Homo sapiens: one gene and its partner. The protein of the gene in region 1 interacts with the protein of each later gene in a biochemical or structural test. Each region holds a gene or a part of one and is shown on either strand. Other genes may lie near its edges.

Region 1 (3,500 bases):
TTACGCGGTGGCTCACGCCTGTAATCCCAGCACTTTGGGGAGCCGAGGTGAGTGAATCACTTGAGGCCAGGAGTTCAAGACTAGCCTGGCCAACATGGTGAAACCCCGTCTCTACTAAAAATAAAAAATTAGCCATGTGTGGCGGCGGGTGCCTGTAATCCCAGGTACTCGGGAGGCTGAGGCAGGAGAATCACTTGAACCTGGGAGGCGGAGGTTGCAATGAGCCAAGATTGCACCACTGCACTCCAGCCTGGATGACAGAGTGAGACCCTGCCTCAAAAAAAAAAAAAAAAAAAAAAAAAAAAAATATATATATATATATATATATATATATACACACACACACACACACACACATACATAAACAATTGAGGATTATTTTAATTTTTGAAAATTTTTAAAAATAATTTTAGCTTTTCTCTTTTTTCCCTAAATGTCTCCTTATTTAATGGAACATTTATTTTATAGTACAGTTAGTCTTAAGGTCCTGAGTCTTGTGATATAACCAGAAATTTCCCTGGCTTCTCTACTAGTATACATCATCATCCTTCATTTGTAACTTTTTGCTGTGTTTTCTCATCACACTATTCCCTCATGAAGAAGTTACGAAGGTAACATTTTAAACAATCTGCTTTCTTTCCAGGAAAGCCTTAAATAACCGCCCCCCCTCGCCCACCGCCTGCAAGAAAAGAAAGAGGTATATTTATTACTGGCCTCAGTTTTGAAAACATACAAAATTAGAATGTTATTTTAGATTTTAAAAGTACTAAATTTGGCTTTGATAATTATCCTTAGCTAGAAGTGAATTGGCTGCATACAAGTAGTAACAGCTCTTCTTTTCTACATAATTCTTCGACTTGGAAATACCATTGTTGTTTAGATTTTGCCTTTCATTTATTTACTATTTTCCTTTTTACTTTTTTTCTTGTTAAATTACCAACTTGAACAAAATTTACAGACCAGTTATAGTCTGTGTATTGTTAAAACTAATATTAGAGACATGCTTATGTGTACCTGGCCAAGATGTAGGTATATCAGAAATTCTTGCCCGGAAATATATTTTCCTGTTTGCTGAGAAGTTGATGAGCCTTCAGTTTTATAAAAGGCAAATAAACGAAAAGGCAAAACCAGCTCTCCAAGAGAATGTCAGAATAGGACTGAAGATTAGGTGATATAAATACTCTTTTGAGACGTTTACACATTACCTAGGAAACAGTCACTGACTGTATAAAAAGAGGATATAGAACTAAAAGCTATTTGGTTTGTTTTAGCTTTGAATAGGAATGATTAATTTCCTGCTGACCTTATGCACTGGAATTTTTGCTTTTGGGCTTGTCTTCATGTGTTTATAATGGTTAATATAAATTTTAGGAAATAGAATAAAAAATAAAGCAGCTCATTAAGAGCTATGGCCATGGTGAGTACTTAACATATTGGTGAGATACTGTACAAAATAAGCAGATGGCTGGATGCAATGGCTAATTCCTGTAATCCTAACACTTGGGAGGCCAAGGTAAGAGGATTGCTTGGGCCCAGGAGTTCAAGACCAGCCTGGGCAACATGGTGAGACACCATCTCTACAAAAAATTTAAAACAAAAAAATTAGCTGGACATGGTGGCACATGCCTGTAGTCCTAGCTACTCAGGAGGCTGAGTCAAGAGGATGGCTTAAGCCTCGGAGGTCGAGGCTTCAGTGAACCAGGATTGTGTCACTGCACTCCAGCCTGAACAACAGAGCAAGGCCTCAAAAAATAATAAATAATAGCACATAACAATTAACCACCTTTTGAATTGCTCTAATTTTATTTTTGAGGATAGTTAACAAATATTTAGCTTTCATTTGGCTCAGGAAGAATAAAAGACAATAAATCCTTAGGTGTAAATGAATAGAAGAGGTCAAACTTTGTGATTTATTTAAATAGTAGTAGTTACAAAAGGCCAGTTACATAACTATCTCTAAAAATATTAAATTGATTCCCAACTGTACTTATTTTTTTCTTATCTCTCAAACTATCAATAGATTCATTTAATCAATATTTAATGTGATTGAGGACACCCATTATGTGCTTAGGATTATGCTAAATATTAATACTAAGGTAAATATAAAATAGTATAGTATATGGTCCCTGCCTTCAAGAAACTTGCATTCTAGCTGGAGAGACAAAAAGATACATACTTTTTAAAAGTTAAGTAACCCGAAGGTCCATCAACAGCAGAATGGATAAAAATGAATCATCAAAAAAAAAAAAGAGTCATCCATTTGTTTAAATGAGTATAAATATGTTTTCTATACAGAATGAAAATGAACATTGTTATACAACATGTATATTTCTCACATTATGTTCAATAAAAAAAGCCAAACACAAAAATATACATACTGTATGATTCCATTTATATGAAACTCAAAAAACTATTGTATTTGAGGTTGCATATTTAGGTGGTACAATTATAAACAAAATCAAGCCAGGAATTACTATAGTTTTTAGAATAGTGATTATCTTTTTGTAAGGGATAGGGGAAGGAAAAGGGTGTTAGTAATTAGGAAGGAAAATGGAGAGGATTTCTAGATAGTAACAATTTTCTGTTTCTGGACCTAGAGGAAGTTTCATAGTTTTGTTTTTGTTTTTGTTTTTGTTTTTAAGACAGAGTCTTGCTCTGTCACCCAGGTTGGAGTATAGTGGCACCATCTTGGCTCACTGCAACCTGCGCCTCCCGAGTTCAAGCAATTCTCCTGTCTCAATCTCCTGAGTAGCTGGGATTACAGGCACCCGCCACCATGCCTGGCTAATTTTTGTATTTTTAGTAGAGATGGGGTTTCACCATATTGGTCAGGCTGGTCTTGAACTCCTGACCTCTCAGGCGACCCACCCAACTTGGCCTCCCAAAGTGCTGGGATTATAGGTGTGGCCTCCCAAAGTGCTGGGATTACAGGCGTAAACTACTGCTCCCGGCCTTTTTTATTTATTTATTTATTTTTGATACGGAGTCTTGCTCTGTCCCTCCTGGCTAATTTTTGTATTCTTAGTAGGGAAGGGTTTTCAGCATGTTAGCCAGGCTAGTCTTGAACTCCTGATCTCAAGTGATCCACCTGCCTTGGCCTCCCAAAGTGCTGGGATTACAAGCGTGAGCCACTGCACCTGGGCCATAGATCTTCACTTTGGAATAATTAAGCTTTTTACTTTGTTTTGTTTATTCTTCTGTGTGTACATTATATTTCACAATGCAAAATATTTTTTTTAAAGTAAACAACAATAAAAAGCAAGTTTTTGCATGTTAGAATGAGCCAAGGGAGTTAGAGAGAGGAGAAACCATCATGAGATAGAGTAATCCGGGGAAGAATAGAAAAAGGCAGTAAAACAAGCCATGCCTTTAAAAATGGGAGGATTAACATGAATGGAGAAAAGGAAACACGTTCTGGATGAGGGAACCTGAGTGAGCAAAGGTATCATGAGCTTGATGAGTTTGGGAGATAACTGTGAGTAGGCCAGTATGACTGAAGT
Region 2 (3,500 bases), on another chromosome or scaffold:
ATTTCAGTGGACTATAATTACAAAACAGGAATCACTGAAGTACAAGGAGGATAGAAATCAGACTTCTGAACTGAGCCAGCAACATCTAAATGACTGGAAATGAGTAGGATGAAATTAATATGGGGCCAAACTGGAGTCTATTACACCCCCATATACACCTAAGTTGCATTTTAAAACAAAGTCATCAGTACAATTTTCATTACAAATAGATGTCAACTAAGGACACCTTATATAAACTCCTCATTGCAATCAAATAATTTATATGGTAAAAGATCTGAAGAACTGTTGCTTTGTAATTTTTTAAAATCTCATATCTGCTATGCTTCATAATAACCTGTTAAGATAATAAGAGGAACCTCTGGTTGCCAGGCACTTAATACCCTATTTATTTTAACTAAACTCATTTTGCATCTTGCTTCCCTCATTTTAACTAAACTCAGGATAAGGCTTACAACCACATTTTTATTTCTTAGTAGTGAAACCACCATTGCAAAATTATAACTGAAATGGTGAAAAAGATCTGACCTAACCAACTCCATCTTGCTTCTAACCTCCAGGTTGTCCTTGTTCATTCCTGGGCATAGGCCATAACTTTGGGAGGAACTTAGTTTATAGTTTAAAACAAAGATGGTAACAGCCCTTTCCCAAAACAAACCTCCTTCTTGCCTGGGGACTAGACTGCCTTTGTAGGACTAACAAATTAGCCACAAGATTGGAAATTAGGGCTTAGGAGTCATGCAGCTGAAAGCTACCAGATTCTGACCCTTACCATCTGTGGCGTCATAGATTCAATGAAACATCATATGTTCTTTGAACCTCTTACTACAGGGTTACCTATAGCATGCACACCAGAATTACTAGTGTGTTTTTTAAAATGCAAACTCCTGAGCCAACTGCATACCTGGAGAATCAGAATCCCTAGGAGTGGGATTAAAGCTCTTGCATGTTTAATAAGCTCCCCAGATGACTGTCATTCGTGCTCAGATCTGAGAGCTTCAGATCTACAGCACACCAATCCACACACACAGGAAAGGCTGTGTGGGGCGGGGGGGGGGGGGGGGGGGAAGGTAAGGCAGATCTAAACCAAAAAAGTTCAAAAGTAAAATTCACATGACAAGATTTTTCATTCTTTCTGGAACAGTCAACCTGCCACCAGAATGGGTCTTCAGTTTTGGTGGGCAACAGATAAATCCAGAGAAAATGTGGTGAGGAATAAATAATCAAGAACTCCTGTTTGCAGGGGTTAAACCAGAGTACTAGATTTAATATTACTCAAATGTTTTCTTGCAGTTTTTATTATCTACCAAAGCAGAATTTTGCTTAAAAAGTTATAATCCACTTAACGAAATGAAATGGTGACTGGATTTCTGCAACCAAGACCACAAACATACCCAAAACAGAAAACAAGACAGAACTCTACAAAATGACATTCAGTTTTGCCTGCTATGAGTTCTACAATTGTTTAAACACTTGTGATCTAAGCTACCTTAATCCTATAGTACACCATCCAGGGAGAGATGGATAGATGAATGAATGGATGGACAGAAAGAAATAGCTATTCTTAGAAACAATGACAACAATAAAATGAAATATATTAACTGTTAGAGGTTGAACATAAATGGGGTAATGAAGTGTCCCACTCATAAACTGCTAAAATGAGATTAGAGAAAGGTACACATTTACATACAGTAGAACTGCTATCTTCATCTCATGTAACTATCTCACATTGTACTAGATGAGAAGTTATAGGTTCCTGTTCTACGTGTTTAAGAATTCCCTTAGGTATCCACTCTACTTATGCTGTTTTGAAGTAGTCTGCAGAATTTAAGTGCACCAGGGTAGACATAATTCCATCAGTCACACCCTCCAAATGAAGACATGGAGAAACAGAATGGTTCCATCGCCCAAGGGTCCTGGATGAAATGCAGTATTGGCACACCATTTGTACCACAAAAACTGAATGAGAATTAGCACTGCTGAAGTAAATTAAAATGGAAACCATGCCTGAAGAATCCCCGAGCAGACAAAACCAATTAGGCCTCATAAGTGACATCAACCTCACTTGATTTGCAAACATAAGCAAAATATGAAGTTACTTCTTATAAATGCCTATGCTAAAGAAAAAGAGAACTTAAGCTTAATCAATCAGAAACATCCAACAAACTTCTAATTACATATCTAGGGGACCTTCCAACACGACAGACCAAATAAAACAACTGTATAACTGCAGCCAATCAAATATTTTCTTTGCTTTACATCTGTGACCCTCCTATAAAAGCCTCCCTCCTGGATTCCCCTGGTGGAGCTCCCAGATCTGGTTTGGAGCTGCTCAATTCATGAATTGTTTGTTCAAATAAACTCTAAAGATGCTTCTATTGTAAAATTTTGTGAAAACGTATTGTATTAGTCCGTTTTTGCACTGTTATAAAGAAATACCCAAGACTGGGTAACCTATAAAGGAAAGAAGTTTAACTGACTCACAGTCCCACATGGCTGGGGAGGTGTCAGGAAACTTACAATCATGGAGGAAGGCTAAGGGGAAACAGACACCTTTTTCACAAGGCAGCAGGAGAGAGAAGAGAGAGAGTGCAGGAAAAACTTCCATTTGTAAAACCATCAGATCTTGTAAGAACTCACTGTCACGAGAACAACATGGGGGAAGCCGCCCTCATGATGCAATCACTTCCCTCCCTCGACACACAGGGATTACAATTTGAGATGAGATTTGAGTGGGGACGCAGAACCAAACCACACCACGTATCAACTGAACCAACTTAAAAATCCATTTTTGTTGACCTTGCGTCTTTCAAAACTCATTTAACAATCACTTAACTGCAAGTAATGAATGATATGTTAGGTAGCACACCTGACACCATAACACTACCTTAGCAAGCCTTGTAGAGATTATGACGAAAATCAATTTAGAGATGTTCATATAACTTTCTGAATAGCACACAAAAATTTAACAAATGAATAAACAAAATGCAGTACGTATCAACGAAATGATATATATGTAATGTGGTGTATATGAATGGAATATAGAATGGAATATTACTCACCCTTAAAAAGGAATGAAGTACTGATACCTGCTGATTTAGAGGACGAACCTCTAAAACATGCTAAGTGAAAGAAGCCAGACACAAAAGAACACATATTGAATTATTCAATTTTTAGGAAAATCCAGAATAGATAAATTTATGGGGGCAGAAAGCAGATCAGTGGTTGCCGAGGATTGGCAGGGAGAAGGGAATGAACAACTGCTTAATGAATATGGGGTTTCCTTTTGGGGTGATGAAAATGTTTTAGAAACGTGACGGTTCATAACATCATGAACGTGCTAAATGCCACACTTTAAAATGGAAAATCTGGCTAGGCATAGGGGCTCATGTCTGTAATCCCAGAGCTTTGGGAGGCTGAGGTCGAAGGATCACCTGAGGGCAGATTTGGCCAGCCTGTGCAAAATAGTAAGATCCCGTCTTTTAAGAAAAAAAATTATAAAA

The links. Proteins that work in one complex are often made in the same cells at the same time.
Region 2: the proteins of GOLPH3L (region 1) and FAM3C form a complex in vitro, tested with the Homo sapiens proteins (one study listed by BioGRID).

The regions. Positions count from the first base shown.
Region 1 is NC_000001.11:150,690,655-150,694,154, reverse strand, and holds part of GOLPH3L (Golgi phosphoprotein 3-like), read left to right. Parts: intron 1-3,500. UniProt on the Homo sapiens protein: Phosphatidylinositol-4-phosphate-binding protein that may antagonize the action of GOLPH3 which is required for the process of vesicle budding at the Golgi and anterograde transport to the plasma membrane.
Region 2 is NC_000007.14:121,389,809-121,393,308, forward strand, and holds part of FAM3C (protein FAM3C precursor), read right to left. Parts: intron 3,120-3,500; exon of another isoform or gene 3,060-3,119; intron 1,554-3,059; exon of another isoform or gene 1-1,553. UniProt on the Homo sapiens protein: May be involved in retinal laminar formation. Promotes epithelial to mesenchymal transition.